Regions from separate parts of the Homo sapiens genome. Here region 1 is linked to region 2. A link means that fine-mapping ties the variant in region 2 to the expression of a gene that starts in the linked region. Tissue or cell type: stomach. Region 2 holds a variant in brackets; the other region holds the start of a gene. All regions are shown on one strand. Distances are from middle to middle.

What was found. PIP is the estimated chance that this variant, and not a neighbour inherited with it, causes the effect.
Region 1: RNASET2 starts here. The variant in region 2 is fine-mapped to the expression of RNASET2 in stomach (GTEx, PIP above 0.99).

Annotation. Positions count from the first base shown.
Region 1 is chr6:166,951,003-166,960,638 of GRCh38, forward strand. RNASET2 (ribonuclease T2) reads right to left here and starts at 5,548. Exons shown (of 9, transcript NM_003730.6): 1 at 5,095-5,548; 2 at 1,486-1,546. The coding sequence starts at 5,180. RefSeq lists enhancers at 1-439, 1-598, 7,498-7,617, silencers at 5,314-6,073, 6,114-6,213, 6,484-6,533 and a cis regulatory region at 8,298-8,584.
Region 2 is chr6:166,889,718-166,899,008 of GRCh38, forward strand. LOC124901461 (a long non-coding RNA gene) reads right to left here and starts at 7,355. Exons shown (of 2, transcript XR_007059867.1): 1 at 3,233-7,355. The variant G/A (reference allele first, on the strand shown) is at 4,895.

The DNA.
Region 1 (9,636 bases), 61 kb after region 2:
AAGACGCGGAGACCAGTAGTGGCCCCGAATGCCTGGCTGCACTGTTGTTTATTGGATACAAGGCAAAAGGGGCAGGGTAAGGAGTGTGAGTCATCTCCAATGACTGATAAGGTCACGTGAGTCACGTGTCCACTGGACAGAGGGCCCTTCCCTGTATGGCAGCGGAGGCGGAGAGAGAGAGAGGCCAGCTTACGCCATTATTTCTTCTATGCATTTCAAAGACTTTTAGTACTTTCACTAATTCTGCTACTGCTATCTAGAAGGCAGAGCCAGGTGTACTGGGTGGAACATGAAAGTGAAACAGCAGTGTGACTGCTGAAGCACAGCATCACGGGGAGATGGTTAGGCCTCCAGATGGCTGTGGGCAGGCCTGACTGATATGAGGCCTATCCACAAGAGGTATGGTGAAGCAGAGTCTGCTCTAACTCCCTTTCCCAGTCTGCTGAGTAACGGGTGCCTTCCCTAGGCACTGACGCTACCACTAGACCGAGGTCAGCTAAGTAATGGTTGCCTTCCCAGGCACTGGTGTTACCACTAGACCAAAGAGCCCTCTAGTGGCCCTGTCCGGGCGTGACAGAGGCTCACACTTGTCTTCTGGTCACTTCTCACCGTGCCCCTTCAGCTCCTATCTCTGTATGGCCTGGTTTTTCCTAGGCTGTAATTGTAGAGCAAGGATTATTATAATATTGGAATAAAGAGCAATGCTACAAACTGATGATTAATAATATTCATATATCATCATATCTATAATCTATTTCTAGTATAACTGTTCTCATTTTATATATTTTCTTTATTATACTGGAACAGCTTATGCCCTCGGTCTCTTGCCTTGGCACCTGGGTGGCTTGCCGCCCACAGAGGGAGGAGACAAACTGAGGCTTGCTGTGGGTTGAACCGTGTCCTCCCAGAAGATATATCCCTGTCCTAACCCCTCCTCCCATCTGTGAACATGACCCTACATGGACACAGGGTCTTTGCAGATGTCATCAAGAAAAGGTGATACCAGATTAGGGTGGGCCCTAAATCCAATTACTGGTGTCCTCATCAGAAGAGACAGAGAGACACAAAGTGGAGAACACACCGTGAAGGAGAAGGCAGAGATTGGGGTGATGGGTCAGCCCAGGAACGCAGAGGACCACGGGTCCTTACTAGAAGCTAGCAGAGAAACAGAACAAACTCTCTCAGAGCCTTCCAGGAGGAACCAACCCTTCTGACCCCTAGGTTGAAACTTCCCCTTCCAGGACCGTGAGAATAAATTCCTGAGGCTCTCAGCCACCCAGCTTGTGGCACTTTTGTTACAGCAGCCCTGGGAAGCTCACACACAGCCCTCCTGGAGGCAGTCTCTGCAGGAGACACCGCCCACCCGCCAGAGCGATGCCTACCTCCCGCACCAGCAGCGTGGGTGCCCTGGACGGGCACGTGCACACAAACCCCTCTTCACAGGGCTCCCCAGGCCCCAGGGCCCGTCAAGGCAGAAACACTCACCTCGCATACTGTCTCAGGCCAGTGCTGAACCATAATTAGTTTTTTCCACTCATGGTTGTCACTGTTAAAACATAAGAAACTTATTTTTCAAGAACTTTTTTTAAAGTTACAGAAAAAATTCATCCACCCATCCATCCCTTCAATCATTCATTCAGCACTGAGTGCTGTGGGAGGAGGAACACTGCCTGCCCTGCTGCTGCACACACTCCCGTGAGGAAGGCGGTACACCCCTACACTAAGAAGGCACGTGTGGTGGCGTCCAGTGCTGAGTGGCGGAGAACATGAATAGGATAAGGGGAGGAGGGGAGAGGAGGGGAAGCGGAGGCAGGGCAAGCTAGGAGTGCAGCCAGGGAGGGCCTCACTGAAGGGAAGCCACTGAGCCACGAAGCACCTTTCTCCTAAGGATGCTCAAGAGAAATGCAGACCCACGATCCCTCCCCTGCATTCGTGAAACCCATAAAAGCCTGAAACCTGGTAGTTTTTTGTAATTCATTTGGCAACAAAACATAACCTGAACTAGCATAACGCTATTTATCGTTACTACCCCAACTCAGTTTTTAGACTTCACTTGCTTCTCTGCAGAATTTGTGTCATTTGATTTTAGGGTGCTACTTCAGATGCCACCAGGACTGTTAACTTGAACACGGTATGTGCACTGCATCATGAATGTTATTCACGACATGGTATGCACACAGCACTGCATCACACGTGTTACCCAGAACCTGGGGCCACACTGGATCACAAACCTGAACACCGTGAAACTCATCTGACTCTAAGACTTCAAAGAAGCCACTGTGGAGCGGCAGCTTATTCATGGCAGTAGGCCTCTAGCCAGAACTGCAAGACTTAACGAGACTGAAGTAAAAAGAGCAGCTTGCAAAAAATGCACATGGAAAAAGCCAGCAGCAACACAGGATATAAGTCAAGCAGACACTTCAGGATAAATCAAATTTTAGAAGGGAAGATTCCAAGTAAGAAGATCAAGTTGTCACACATTAGCTTTTGTAAATAATTGAGTCCTGTTGAATTTGTATAGAATTTACAGTTAAGATGGTATGAAAACTTAGTTGTACATTGGAACTAATTATGCAAGCTCTCAGTATAAAAGGAAAAAAGGGTTCAAGCGTGGTGGCTCACACCTATAATCCCAGCACTTTGGGAGGCAGAGGCAGGAGGATTGCTTGAGCTCAGGAGTTCAAGACCAGCCTGGGCAACATGGTGAAACCCTGTCTCTACAAAAATTAGCCAGGTGTGGTGGCATGAACCTGTAGTCCCAGCTACTTGGAAGGCGCTGAGGCAAGAGGATAGCTTAAGCCCAGGAGGTGGAAGATGCAGTGAGCCCAGATCACATCACTGCACTCCAACCTGGGCTACACAGCCAGACCCTGTCTCAAAAAAAAAAAAAAAGGATGAGCTGCAGGGTGAGAATTGGAGCTGGTAAAGCATTTTTTACCCTTGGGTGAAAAACCTTATTTTACATAGTCGGAACCTGAGGCTGGAAAGCTTAGCAACACCCAGGAAGATGAGACTATCAATATGCTTACAACAAAACTACCAAGACTCAGACGTTTGTAACAAACTCTCCATCTAAAACCAGGCAGAGTGATGTGACTGCAGGAGACCCCCTCCCACACAGATGCCCCCCTCCCCTATTCACGGAGAAAGTAATGGAGAAGCTAAAGAAAGTCAAAGAAGAAAGAAAAATCACCAAGGTCTCAAAACCAGTTAGAACTTGGGAAAATGCCCGCTGACCTATGAAGCCCTCGTGGTCTGAATCAACCATGTTCTCGCAAATCTTGCCTGCTCAAGTTTGTCCGATCATATCAGTTGCATGAATTATGGGCTGGGGTGGGGGATCCACATATGACAGCCTGTTTTATGCTAATGTTTACTTCCAGCCAGACATCATTCCAAGTTACATTCTGTACCTTAACTGATTTCTCCTGAAGCCAACTCTGTGAGGCTGACTGTTACTATTTCTACTTTACAGATGAGGAAACTGGGGCATAGAGAGCTCAAAGGTCCCACACCTGGGTGTGAACTAGCAGTTTCCACTCAGCCAGCAAGGGCCAGCATGCCACAGACTTCCCCAGTGAGAGGCTCTGAACCTCATGGCCAATAAATAAGGACATAAATGTAGCTCTTTTTCAGAAAATACACTTTCCGGAACACTGAAATATAATGCTACATTTTAATGTACATGATTAAAAATATATACCTAAGGTGTTTAAAAAGTAAAACCCTGGCCGGGTGCAGTGGCTCACGCCTGTAATCCCAGCACTTTGGGAGGCCGAGGCGGGCGGATCACCTGAGGTCAGAAGTTCGAGACCAGCCTGGCTATTAAAAATACAAAAATTAGCCAGGCGTGGTGGTGTGCATCTGTAATCCCACCTACTCAGAGGCTGAGGCAGGAGAATCGCTTGAACCCGGGAGGTGGAGGTTGCAGTGAGCTGAGGTCACGCCACTGTACTCCAGCCTGAGTGACAGAGTAAGACTGTCTAAAAAAAAATAAATAAGTAAAACCCACCTTTTCCACACCTACTATGTAAGTAAGAAATCCTATTAACCCGATCATTACCCAAATAGAAAGAAATAATATGGTATTCAAATATTGGTATCTTCCACAGAATTAAAGTTGGAGTTCTTTGCAGCACCGCCTGTTTACCCCTAATTAATTTGGGCGGCTGCCACACACACACACGCACACACGCACGCACACACGCACGCACACACGCGCACACACGCACGCACGCACACACACGCACACACGCACACACACACACGCGCACACACGACACACACGCACAGACGCGCACACACGACACACACGCACACACACGCACGCACGCACACGCACACGCACGCACACACACACGCACACACAAACGCACACGCACACACACACACGCGCACACACACACGCGCACACACACACACACGCGGAGGGCGAGCCAAGGGAAGGGATTCAGAACAGGATACTCAAAAAGAGGAAGAACCGTCGTTTCACCACCCGCCGCAGTGAAAGCTGAAATTAAGTGTCCCCTCCACGACTTCTTCGACCTCTGAGAGAACTTCGAGTGCAGGAACAGTGCTCCACCAAGCCTGCCACCTGCTTTGTCGCGTCCTAGGCTGGGAGCAGTCTGTGGGATGAGTTTCCAGTCCAGCTCCAGGCTGGAGTGTACCCAGGACCTCACCCTACCCCCTACTCCTTCCCAGGGGTCACCCCGGGGAGTGTTCAGGGCTCCCCAACCCACTTCTTCCCAGGAGTCACCCCAGAGCGTGCCCAGGGCTCCCCCCAACCCACTCCTTCCCAGAGGTCACCCCGGGGCGTGCTCAGGACTCCCCTCATCGCACTCCTTCCCAGAGGTCACTTCTGAGTGTGCTAAGGGCTCCCCCCAACCCACTCCCTCCAGGGGTCACCCCGAGGCGTGCTCAACTTCCCAACTTCTTCCCAGGGGTCACCCCGGAGCGTGCTCGGCTCCCCCCGCCCTCCCCAGTCGCTGCCCGGGGCTCAGCGACCGCCGACCCCGAGAGCTGCAGCCTTCACCCAGTGGAAAGCTCTAGGGCCCGGCTCCCACGCTCCCCACTTTACCTCGCAAGGTAACTCACCGCAGGCGCTTGTCCGCACCGCCCAGGCAAAGCAACGCCAGGCAGAGGCAGCCCAGCAGGGCCCCGCGCAGGGCTGCAGGGCGCATGGTGCCGACCTGCGGAGAGAACGCTGCCAGCTGCCGCTCCGGCTCCCACTTCCCACCTGCTGCCCGAGGAAGACTTCCGGGAGAAACGCTGTCTCCGAGCCCCCGCGCCGCCGCGCTCCCTCCGCTGCAGCAGCGGCCACCGGGTGCGCCCGGAGCCCTGGGACGGCCTAAACCAGTATCTCGCGGGCCCCGCGCCGGGCTCCGGGAATGGCCGCAGCAGCCCTGGCGACCCGGGCCCCTCGGAGCTCCCCTTCAGGATCGTGCACCAAGCGCGCACGTCCCGGGCTCTGCTTCGCGACCCACAGCGACCCCAGCTCCTCCACGCTGCAGCCGCCGTCCGCCCACGACCACGGTCAGTCGCGTTGCTCCCAGCCCAGGGCGCCCTGCGGGCCTGCACCGGAGCAGAGAGCCACGCCCCCAGGACGGCACGCCCCCGCCGGTGGACACGCCCCCCAGAACGGCACGTCCCCGCCCGGCGTTCACGCCCCGCCCCGTGGTTGGCTCAGAGAGGCCGAGGCAGGAGCAGCTCCGCGGGCCTTGAGGGCGTGTCAGGCGGCTGTGTTCCTTCGCCACGCAGGCGCCCCGCGCCTTTTCCCGCAGCTCTGCGCCACTCCCACACTCCCGGGTCCGAGCTAACCTAGACCACCCGTGAGGACCGCCCTCGGGGGGACCGCCCGTGTCTGCGCCATCCCCCGCCAGCAAGTGGGCGTGCGGGCCCCAGGGCCACTCTACTCTCCAGGGACAGCCCCCAGCCCGACCCGCGCACCCTGCAGGCCCGCGGTCCGCACGCAGCACCCGCTTTCAAAAACTGCGCCCTGCAAGCTGCCCGGGAGCTCCTGACTGCAGATGGTGCTTGGCCGCCCAGGCTCCCCGCAGCCTCCCGCCACCTCGGCGCTCCACTGCGCAGCCCGAGGGACGGCTCCAGAATTAGGAGGGGACCTACTCGGGTCACTCTCCTGGAAACCTCTCCAGTCTCCCGGTGCTAGGTGCTGGGAGCACCAACATTCCTAGAAGGGCCTGGCCCTCACCCAGCCCTGGGCCTCACCTGCCCCTCCCCGCGGGCCCCAGGAGCCCGGAAGTCATCTCTGTGGGGGCAGCAAAGAGCCGCCTCGGGGCGCGACCTGGGAAGTCATCTTGTGAGGGATCCCCTCCCAGAGGGACGGGCCACCCCCCACGGATGAAGGGGACTTCATGTCAGCCCCACCTTGGCGTAGCCAGGGCCAGTCCCATAGGCCCGGTCTCCTCCCCCAACACCCTGGCCTTCCCAGCCCTTCAGAGGCACGGGTTCCCCTGCACCCGCGGCCCCGCCCACGGGCTGTGCACCCGGCATTGTCTCTGCAGATGTTTCTCCTCTTTCCCTTCCCTGTCCGCACACCCACAGCTAGTTAAGGCTATTCCTATTTACACGTCGAGTAAACTGCGCCTTCCTCGGGGTCCTCTGCCACTGGTAACTGTCTAAATAGCAGGTGGGCCTGTAGCCTGCTCTCCCACAGGCCTGGACCTTGCCTGCATGCATTACCATTCTTTGAAACAAAATATTTAAATGATTAATCTGTTTTTCCCACTAGACTGCAAGGCAAGGCCCATGTCTATTTTGCCCACCTTGAGTCCCTGCCACTGAGCACAGTGGATGGGGGACAGTCGGTGCTCAATAAAATGCCACCTGTGGAACAGATGGGGGGGGAAAATGGCTGACACCTCCTTAGCTCCTCCAGGACCTCCTACAGGTCATGGTGTTATTCTCGTTCTCCTTTTCCCTAACGACTTATTTGTTTCTTTCCGGCTCCTTTCATTCCTTCCTCTCAAGAATATAGGCACACGCCACAGTTCTTTTTCTCTTTTCTTTTAAGCTAAAAAAATAATTTTCTTAAAACAAAAGTGCTTCCCAGAATCCTCATTTTCCTTTAAATCACAGTCCGGTGTGTTTAAACAGCCCCTTGTCAAGGAGGGCTGTTGTGACCACTGCCAAATATAAAGCAAATCTGGACTCGGGGAGGAGTGGTGTTATGAGGACCATTATTGCAGGGGCCTGGGGGCCTTTTGTCCCTACTAAAAATACAAAAATTTGCTGGGCGGGGGTGGCACGCGACTGTAATCCTGTGGCAGGAGGAGCGGCAGACAAAACCTCTCAGACACCGAGCTATAGAAGGAAGGGCTTTATTCAGCTGGGAGCATCGGCAAGCTACTGCCTTAAAATCCGAGCTCCCCGAATGCACAATTTCTGTCCCTTTTAAGGGCTCACAACATTAAAGATTTCACATGAAAGGGTCGTGATTGATTTGAGCAAGCAAGGGGTACGTGACGGGCTGCATGCACTGGTGGTCAGAGAGAAACAGAACAGGGCAGGGAGTTTCACAATGTTCTTCTATACAATGTCTGGAATCTATGAATAACATCGGTCTCTAAGTCATGAGTTGATTTTTAACTACTAGGTTTAGGCCAGGCAGGCCCAGGTCCGGTTTTGGGCCTGGCGCCGGGCTGCCTGTCTTTGATTTCACTTCCTTGTTTTTTTCTTAAAACAGGTACTGAGTATAAAACAATATAAAACAATATGAGAGGGTCTCTCTCTTCCCTCAATCCCAGCTACTCTGGAGGCTGAGGCAGGAGAATCGCTTGAACCCAGGAGGCAGAGGTTGCAGTGAGCCGAGATCGCGCCACTGCACTCCAGCCTGGGCGACAGAGTGAGACTCGGTCAACAACAACAACAAAAAGAATGAATGAAAGAAAGAAGAAAGAGAGAAAAAGAAAGAGAGAGAAAGAATGAACTGGGAATGGAGAAGTGGGATGAGAACCTGCCTTCATAGGACATTAGATCAGAGAAGGTTGACCCCGTGGCCAGCCTGTTCTCAGGGGGGACTGACTCAGGCTAAGATGAGGCCAAAAGTCCTCAGCCTCGGGGGAAGAGAGGAGCCTCACCAAGTTTGCTTAACAAGTGTGTTATTTCTATTGACTGGCTCATCATTGATGAGGTGAAGAATGGGAATTGGAGGATCTGTGTCTGGCTTTGTCCTAGGTAATGGGTAGGGGGTGGAGTGAGGGGAGCATCCGTCACTTTTCCTTTTTTTTTTTTTTTTTTTGGAGACAGCGCCCAGCTGCATCACTTCTATCACTCTTACCTATGTTATGTGGGGAAGAAGGGGGTCTCTCGCAGCAAGCCACTTTCCACAACTCACAGAGAGGAGATTTTTATCAGATAAATTCAGCAGCGTCCTACCCAGCCTGAAGAAGCCACCCAGTCATTTCCTGTTGCACTTCCTTGTTTATTTTCGACACAGTTCTCCCCACCCCTGAGAATTCTTGTCACTTCCTCCTGTACTGCCCACTTCTACTCCCCCACCCCCACATCGGAAGCTAATGAGGAGCTTCAGGCCCCTTGCTGGCATGGGCCCCACCAAGACCCCATATCTCATTCCGTATTCACAATTTTACCTTCTTGTTCTTAAAGAAGGACATCCAAATGGAAAAGCTCTCAACCCCCCAAAACTTGGATGTGAACCTGGAGCATCTGTCATCTGTCTTGTTCACTACTTGTCCACCTACCAGGATCCTAAACGGAACCCTACGTAGGGAAGAGGCAGTGGCTGTAAAGGCTGGATTTGGGTCTGGAAGCCGCCCAGCTTTACGAAAACAAAGAGGGCTCCAGCATCAAGCAGGTGGGCAGGGGCCAGAGTGGGAATTACATTGACTCACACAACATAGTGTAAAAGGGTACAAACTATGAGGTTTAAAAGATGCTGCTGGCTTGTATAGAAACATGTCCTTAGGAGAGGGGAGGGGGACAGGATGGCAACAGCCATGTCTATGAACAGACATCCTTAAATCCTTGTTAATTCTGAAGAGACCAAGATACTTTCACCACACAACCTCTTCTTGGCATTAGCTCCAGGTTTCCTGTTTCCATGCCAGCTTTTGCTGGGTTATGCTACAATAATACACCGCCCCCAAATCTCAGTGTCTCACTTAAACGGAAGTTGATCATTTATCATTCATTTGCCCATATTCCATGCTGGCTATGCGTCAGATGCCACTGTGGTCCACGGTATTTTTCACTCTGGAACCCAGGCGGTAGGAACAGCCCATATCTGGTGCTGGCCATTCCAATGGCAGAGCAGTGGCACAACTACACAGTTTAGGATTCTCATGCTCTAAAGAGCTTTGTCACACTTGAAAGAATCTCACCTTAAAAACTCCTTTCCATCCTGAATTACTTATTTGCTGAGAAAGTGAGGCCAGCTGCTGGGTGTTTCCCTGCCCTTTCTCTTCTTTTTCTTTTTCTTTTTTTTTTTTTGAGACAGAGTCTCACTCTGTCAGCCAGGCTGGAGTGCAGTCAGTGGCACAATCTCGGCTCACAGCAACCTCCGTCTCCCAGGCTCAAACAATTCTCCTGCCCTAGCCTCCCGAGTAGCTGGGATTACAGGCGTGTGCCACCACGTCCGGCTAATTTTTGTGTTTTTAG
Region 2 (9,291 bases):
CCCTATTTAATAAATGGTGCTGGGAAAACTGGTTAGCCATATGTAGAAAGCTGAAACTGGATCCCTTCCTTACACCTTATACAAAAATTAATTCAAGATGGATTAAAGACTTAAATGTTAGACCTAAAAACCATAAAAACCCTAGAAGAAAACCTAGGCAATACCATTCAGGACATAGGCATGGGCAAGGACTTCATGACTAAGACACCAAAAGCAATGGCAACAAAAGCCAGAATTGACAAATGGGATCTAATTAAACTAAAGAGCTTCTGCACAGCAAAAGAAACTACCATCAGAGTGAATAGGCAACCTACAGAATGGGAGAAAATTTTTACAATCTACGCATCTGACAAAGGGCTAATTATCCAGAATCTACAAAGAACATAAACAAATTTACAAGAAAAAAATCGAACAATCCCATCAAAAAATGGGCGAAGGATATGAACAGACACTTCTCAAAAGAAGACATTTATGCAGGCAACAGACACATGAAAAAATGCTCATCATCACTGGCCATCAGAGAAATGCAAATCAAAACCACAATGAGATACCATCTCAAATCAGTTAGAATGGCAATCATTAAAAAGTCAGGGAACAACAGATGCTGGAGAGGATGTGGAGAAATAGGAACACTTTTACACTGTTGGTGGGACTGTAAACTAGTTCAACCATTGTGGAAGTCAGTGTGGCGATTCCTCAAGGATCTAGAACTAGAAATACCATTTGACCCAGCCATCCCATTACTGGGTATACACTGGTTATATACTGGGTATACATAATAAGGATTATATAGCATGCTGCTATAAAGACACATGCACACGTATGTTTATTGCGACACTATTCACAATAGCAAAGACTTGGAACCAACCCAAATGCCCATCAATGACAGACTGGATTAAGAAAATGTGGCACATATACACCATGGAATACTATGCAGCCATAAAAAAGGATGAGTTCATGTCCTCTGAGGGACATGGATGAAGCTGGAAACCATCATTCTGAGCAAACTATCACAAGGACAGAAAACCAAACACCGCATGTTCTCACTCATAGGTGGGAATGGAGTAATGAGAACATTTGGACACACAGTGGGGAACATCACACACCAGGGCCTGTCGTGGGGTGGGGGGAGGGGGGAGGGATAGCATTAGGAGATATACCTAATGTAAATGACGAGTTAATGGGTGCAGCACATCAACATGGCACATGTATACATATGTAACAAACCTGCACGTTGTGCACATGTACCCTAGAACTTAAAGTATAAAAAAAAGAATAAATTTAACTGAGATCCCTATGTTCTACTTGCCAACAAACACCCTCCAGGAAAAGAATTAGTCCTAAAATTAAAAATAAAAAAAAAAGGGCTACCCTCTTTGAGTCCCCTCCCTTTGTATGGGAGCTCTGTTTTCACTGTATTAAATCTTGCAACTGCACTCTCTTCTGGTCTATGTTTGTGTCGGCTTGAGCTGAGCTTTCACTCGCTGTCCACTACTGCTGTCGCAGACCCGCCGCTGACTTCCATCCCTCCGGATCCTGCAGGGTGTCCGCTGTGCTCCTGATCCAGCGAGGTGCCCATTGCCGCTCCTGATCAGGCTAAAAAGGCTTGCCATTGTTCCTGCACTGCTAAGTGTCCGGGTTCGTCCTAATCAAGCTGAACACTAGTCACTGGGTTCCACAGTTCTCTTCTGTGACCCACGGCTTCTAATAGAGCTATAACACTCACCACATGGCCCAAGATTCCATTCCTTGGAATCCGTGAGACCAAGAACCCCAGGTCAGAGAACACGAGGCTTGCAACCATCTTGGAAGCAGCCCACCGCCATTTTGGAAGCAGCCAGCCACCACCTTGGGAGCTCTGTGAGCAAGGACCCCCTGGTAACATTTTGGTGACCATGAAGGGACCTCCAAAGTGGTAATACTGGACCACTTTCACTTGCTATTCTGTCCTATCCTTCCTTAGAATTGGAGGAAAATACCGGGCACCTGTCGGCCAGTTAAAAACCATTAGCATGGCTTTTTAACCATGCTATATGCCTATGTCCTAGGCATATAGCCTAGGACATAGGACATGCCATGCCTATGTCCAGACTTAGGACTCAGGTGTGAGGCTATCTGGGGAAGGGCTTTCTAACAACCCCCAACCCTTCTGGGTTGGGGACATTGGTCTGCCTGGAGCCAGCTTCCACTTTCAATTTTCTTGGGGAAGCCAGGGGCCAACTAGAGGCAGAAAGCTGTCATCCCGAACTCCCGGCATTAGCCAGTTGAGATCATGGTGCAGCCAGAAGTCTCTCCTCAACAGTTGCCCATGCATGCACCCCTACCTTTCCTTCTGACCCATACATCCTGGGTCCCAACCACGACGTTCTTGAAAGTGTAGCCCCAAAATTCTCCTTACCTCTGAATCTTCTTCCTCTGATCCCTGCCTCCTAGGTACTAATGGTTCAGACTTTCATTTCCTCTGGCAAGTTGTAACTCCAAAGGGATCTAAGGAAGCTCTACGCTGTGTTCTTAGGCATCTAGGCTACAAACCCAGGAAGTGTTATCCCTGGTGTCCCACCCGATTTAAGTATACAGCTCTCGACATGGGCAGTTATGTTGGACCCGTTCCCCACCACCCTTGCCAGGGCCCCAAATTTGTAATGGCTAAGAGAAGGCGAGAGATGGAGGAGAGAGAGAGACAGAGGAGGGAGAGAGAGAGAGAGATGGAGGAGAGAGAGAGAGAAAGAGGGAGTCAAAGAGAAAAAAACAGAGAAAGATAGAAATAGTAAAAAACAGTGTGCCCTATTCCTTTAAAAGCCAGGGTAAATTTAAAACCTGTAATTGATAATTGAAGGTCTTCTCCATGACCCTATAACACTCCAATACTACCTTGTTGTTAGTGTAAACAAGGGCGTAGCCTGAAAACACTGAGACCGCTAACAACCAGGAGCCTTCCCATCAAAATTCCTCAACTCAGTGACCCGCAGATGGCCCAAATGCATACAGTCTGTAGCAGCAACTGCTTTGCTAACAGAAGAAAGTAGAAAAGTGACGTTTAGAGGAAACCTCATTGTGAGCACACCTAATCAGTTCAGAATTATTCTAAGTCAAAAAAGCAAAAAGGTAGCTTACTAACTCAAAAATCTTAAAGCATGCGGCTTTTCTGTTAGAAAAAGGTAATTTAACACCAACCACTGATAATCCCATTAACCCAGCAGATTTCCCAACAAAGGATTTAAATCTTAATTACCATACAAAGGTCCGACCAGATCTAGGAGGAACTCCCTTCAGGACAGGACAGTAGATGGTTCTTCCCTGGTGACTGAGGAAAAAACCACAATGGGCATTCAGTAATTGGTAGGGAGACTCTTGTGGAAGCAGAGTTAGAAAAATTGCTTAATAATTGGTCTCCTCAAACGTGCGAGCCGTTTGCACTCAGCCAAGCCTTAAAGTACTCACAGAATCAAAAAAGACTATCTCAATCCTGACTCAAAAGGTTACCTACACCCTCTCTGAAATGAATTTGCATAAGAACTGTTGTTTATGGGAATGCATCTTGATGGGGAAGCTGGGTTGTTATGAAATACTCAGGAACCCAGCCCAGCTCTAGGACTCACCCCTGAGCACAAAGGCAATGTTGGGTACGCTGGTAAAGGACCACTAGAATCCAGCAGCCTGGACCCCTTTCTTTGTGGTCAAGAAAGGCAGGAAAAGGGTGCAAGACTGCTACTTCGGTGAGCATAACTAATCCGATAAGCCGAGGTCCATGGGTGGTTACGCACCCTGGAAAGGAATAAGCATTAGGACCACAGCGGACACTCTAAGATTAATGCACATCGGAAAATGACTAGGGGTGCTGGCATCCCTCAGTTCTTTTTTCAGATAGGAAATGTTCCGCCCAAGGCAAAAATGCCCCTAAGATGTATTCTGGAGAATTGGGACCAATTTGACCCTCAGATGCTAAGAAAGAAATGACTCATTTTCTTCTGCAGTACCGCCTGGCCACGATATCCTCTTCAAGGGGGAGAAACCTGGCCTCTGGAGGGAAGTATAAATTATAACACCATCTTACAGCTAGAACTCTTTTGTAAAAAAGAAGGCAACTGGAGTGAAGTGCCATATGTACAAACTTTCTTTTCATTAAGAGACAACTCGCAATTATGTAAAAAGTGTGATTTATGCCCTACAAGAAGCCTTCAGAGTCTACCTCCCTACCCCACCATCCCCCCAACTCCTCCCCCAACTAATAAGGACCCCCCTTGAACCCAAACGGTCCAAAAGGAGATAGACAAAGGGGTAAACAATGAATCAAAGGTGCCAATATTCCCCGATTATGCCCCCTCCAAGCAGTGAGAGGAGGAGAATTCATCCCAGCCAGAGTGCATGTACCTTTTTCTCTCTCGGACTTAAAGCAAATTAAAATAGACCTAGGTAAATCCTCAGATAACCCTGATGGCTATATTGATGTTTTACAGGGGTTAGGACAATCCTTCGATCTGATATGGAGAGATATAATGTTACTGCTAAATCAGACGTTAACCCCAAATGAGAGAAGTGCCACCATAACTGCAGCCTGAGAGTTTGGCGATCTCTGGTATCTCAGTCAGGTCAATGATAGGATGATAACAGAGGAAAGAGAATGATTCCCCACAGGCCAGCAGGCAGTTCCCAGTGTAGACCCTCACTGGGACGCAGAATCAGAACATGGAGATTGGTGCTGCAGACATTTGCTAACTTGTGTGCTGGAAGGACTAAGGAAAACCAGGAAGAAGCCTACAAATTTTTCAATGATGTCCACTATAACACAGGGAAAGGAAGAAAATCCTACTGCTTTTCTGGAGAGACTAAGGGAGGCATTGAGGAAGCATACCTCTCTGTCACCTGACTCTATTGAAGGCCAACTAATCTTAAA[G/A]GATAAGTTTATCACTCAGTCAGCTGCAGACATTAGAAAAAAACTTCAAAAGTCCGCCTTAGGCCCAGAGCAAAACTTAGAAACCCTATTGAACTTGGCAACCTTGGTTTTTTATAATAGAGATCAGGAGGAGCAGGCGGAACAGGACAAACGGGATTTAAAAAGGCCACTGCTTTAGTCATGGCCCTCAGGCAAGTGGACTTTGGAGGCTCTGGAAAAGGAAAAGCTGGGAAAATCGAATGCCTAACAGGGCTTGCTTCCAGTGCGGTCTACAAGCACACGTTAAAAAAGATCATCCAAGTAGAAATAAGCTGCCTCCTCGTCCACCATTATGTCAAGGGAATCACTAGAAGGCCCACTGCCCCAGGGGATGAAGGTCCTCTGAGTCAGAAGCCACTAACCAGATGATCCAGCAGCAGGACTGAGGGTACCGGGGCAAGCACCAGCCCATGCCATTACCCTCACAGAGCCTCGGGTATGCTTGACCATTGAGGGCCAGGAGGTTAACTGTCTCCTGGACACTGGCGCGGCCTTCTCAGTCTTACTCTCCTGTCCCGGACAACTGTCCTCCAGATCTGTCACTCTCCGAGGGGTCCTAGGACAGCCAGTCATTAGATACTTCTCCCAGCCACTAAGTTGTGCCTGGGGAACTTTACTCTTTTCTCATGCTTTTCCAATTATGCCTGAAAGCTCCACTCCCTTGTTAGGGAAAGACATTCTAGCAAAAGCAGGGGCCATTATACACCTGAACATAGGAGAAGGAACACCCATTTGTTGTCCCTGCTTGAGGAAGGAATTAATCCTGAAGTCTGGGCAACAGAAGGACAATATGGACGAGCAAAGAATGCCCATCCTGTTCTAGTTAAACTAAAGGATTCCGCCTCCTTTCCCTACCAAAGGCAGTACTCCCTTAGACCTGAGGCCCAACAAGGACTCCAAAAGATTGTTAAGGACCTAAAAGCCCAAGGCCTAGTAAAACCATGCAATAGCCCCTGCAATACTCCAATTTTAGGAGTAGAGAAACCCAACAGACAGTGGAGGTTTGCACAAGAGCTCAGGATTATCAATGAGGCCATTGTCCCTCTATACCCAGCTGTACCTAACCCTTATACTCTGCTTTCCCAAATACCAGAGGAAGCAGAGTGGTTTACAGTCCTGGACCTTAAGAATGCCTTTTTCTGCATCCCTGTACATCCTGACTCTCAATTCTTGTTTGCCTTTGAAGATCCTTCAAACACAACCTGTCAACTCACCTGGACTGTTTTACCCCAAGGGTTCAGGGATAGCCCCCATCTATTTGGCCAGGCATTAGCCCAAGACTTGAGCCAATTCTCATACCTGGACACTCTTGTCCTTCAGTACATGGATGATTTACTTTTAGTCGCCCGTTCAGAAACCTTGTGCCATCAAGCCACCCAAGAACTCTTAAATTTCCTCACTACCTGTGGCTACAAGGTTTCCAAACCAAAGGCTCGGCTCTGCTCACAGCAGATTAGATACTGAGGGCTAAAATTATCCAAAGGCACCAGGGCCCTCAGTGAGGAACGTATCCAGCCTATACTGGCTTATCCTCATCCCAAAACCCTAAAGCAACTAAGAGGGTTCCTTGGCATAACAGGTTTCTGCCGAAAACAGATTCCCAGGTACAGCAAAATAGCCAGACCATTATATACACTAATTAAGGAAACTCAGAAAGCCAATACCTATTTAGTAAGATGGACACCTAAACAGAAGTGGCTTTCCAGGCCCTAAAGAAGGCCCTAACCCAAGCCCCAGTGTTCAGCTTGCCAACAGGGCAAGATTTTTCTTTATATGCCACAGAAAAAACAGGAATCGCTCTAGGAGTCCTTACACAGGTCCGAGGGATGAGCTTGCAACCCATGGCATACCTGAATAAGGAAATTGATGTAGTGGCAAAGGGTTGGCCTCATTGTTTATGGGTAGTGGCGGCAGTAGCAGTATTAGTGTCTGAAGCAGTTAAAATAATACAGGGAAGAGATCTTACTGTATGGACATCTCATGACGTGAATGACATACTCACTGCTAAAGAAGACTTGTGGCTGTCAGACAACTGTTTACTTAACTATCAGGCTCTATTACTTGAAGGGCCAGTACTGTTAACCCAGCCACATTTCTTCCAGACAATGAAGAAAAGATAGAACATAACTGTCAACAAGTAATTCCTCAAACCTGTGCTGCTCGAGGGGACCTTTTAGAGGTTCCCTTGACTGATCCCAACCTCAACTTGTATACTGATGGAAGTTCCCTTGTAGAAAAAGGACTTCGAAAAGTGGGCTATGCGGTGGTCAGTGATAACAGAATACTTGAAAGTAATCCCCTCACTCCAGGAACTAGTGCTCAGCTGGCAGAACTAATAGCCCTCACTCGGGCACTAGAATTGGGAGAAGGAAAAAGGGTAAATATATATACAGACTCTAAGTATGCTTACCTAGTCCTCCATGCCCACACAGCACTATGGAAAGAAAGGGAATTCCTAACTTCCGAGGAAACACCTTTCAAACATCAGGAAGCCATTAGGAGATTATTATTGGCTGTATAGAAACCTAAAGAGGTGGCAGTCTTACACTGCTGGGGTCATCAGAAAGGAAAGGAAAAGGAAATAGAAGGGAACCACCAAGCGGATATTAAAGCCAAAAGAGCCACAAGGCCGGACACTCCATTAGAAATGCTTATAGAAGGACCCCTAGTATGGGGTAATCCACTCCAGGAAACCAAGCCCCAGTACTCAGAAGAAGAAATAGAATGGGGAGCCTCACGAGGACATAGTTTCCTCCCCTCAGCATGGCTAGCCACCGAAGAAGGAAAAATACTTTTGCCTGCAGCTAACCAATGAAATTACTTAAAACCCTTCACCAAACCTTTCACTTAGGCATTAATAGCACCCATCAGGTGGCCAAATCATTATTTACTGGACCAGGCCTTGTCAAAACTATCAAGCAGATAGTCAAGGCCTGTAAACTGTGCCAAAGAAATAATCCCCTGCACTGCAGGCCATTCATTTCAATCCCTGTATCTTTAACCTCCTTGTTAAGTTTGTCTCTTCCAGAATCAAAGCTGTAAAACTACAAATCGTTCTTCAAATGGTGCCCCAGATGCAGTCCATGACTAAGATCTACCGTGGACCCCTGGACCGGCCTGCTAGCCCATGCTCTGATGTTAATGACATTGAAGGCACCCCTCCCGAGGAAATCTCAACTGCACCATCCCTACTATGCCCCAATTCAGCAGGAAGCAGTTAGAGCGGTTGTCGGCCAACCTCCCCAGCAGCACTTGGGTTTTCCTGTTGAGAGGGGGTACTGAGAGACAGGACTAGCTGGATTTTCTAGGCTGACTAAGAATCCCTAAGCCTAGCTGGGAAGGTGATGGCTTCCACCTTTAAACACGGGGCCTGCAACTTAGCTCACATCCGACCAATCAGATAGTAAAGAGAGCTCACTAAAATGCTAATTATGCAACAACATGAGGTAAAGAAATAGCCAATCATCTATTGCCTGAGAGCACAGCAGGAGGGACAATGATCAGGACATGAACCCAGGCATTTGAGCTAGCAAATGCTACCCTCTTTGGGTCCCCTCCCTTTGTATGGGAGCTCTGTTTTCACTATTAGATCTTGCAACTGCAAAATAAATAAATAAATAAAATAAAAAAGTGTCTGCTGAAGGTCTACCTGCTGTGTAAGAAAAGAAAACACAATATCGACAACATTCTTCCATTTGCATCATTATCGCTCATTTACTTCTAAAAGGATGGCCTCTGCTTGGAGGGAAAAAATGGGCAATTGAAGCAGAGTTAAAGCATCGTTAGGGCAATATGCCTCTGTCTTTTTAAAGCCTTGGGCTTGTGAGGCTCACTGGTAGGAGATAAAATGTGATGTGAGCACTCAGATACCCCCAAACACAGACAGGAACGACAAACACTGGCATTGAGTAAGTGCTCTAACACCCAAACTCAGGACCACGCCCTACCTGTACATGTTACCTTATTTGGAAATAGGATCTTTCAGATTTAGCAAGATAAAGGAATACTGCACATGGGTGGGCCCTAAGCCAATGATTGGTGTCCTAATGAGAACAGAGAAATTTGAACACACTTGGGGCAGAATGCCAGGTGAACACACACAGGAACAATGCCACGGGAACACACACAACGGGGAGAACGCCATGTGAACACACAGAGGGGAGAACGCCAGGTGAACGCACATGGAGGGGAGAACGCCGGGTGAACGCACACAGGTGGGAGAACGCCAGGAGAACGCACACAGAGAGGAGAACGCCGGGTGAACGCACACAGTCGGGAGAATGCCGGGTGAATGCACAAAGTAAGGAGAAAGTTGGGTGAACTCACAGAGCTGGGAGAACGCGGGGTGAACGCACACA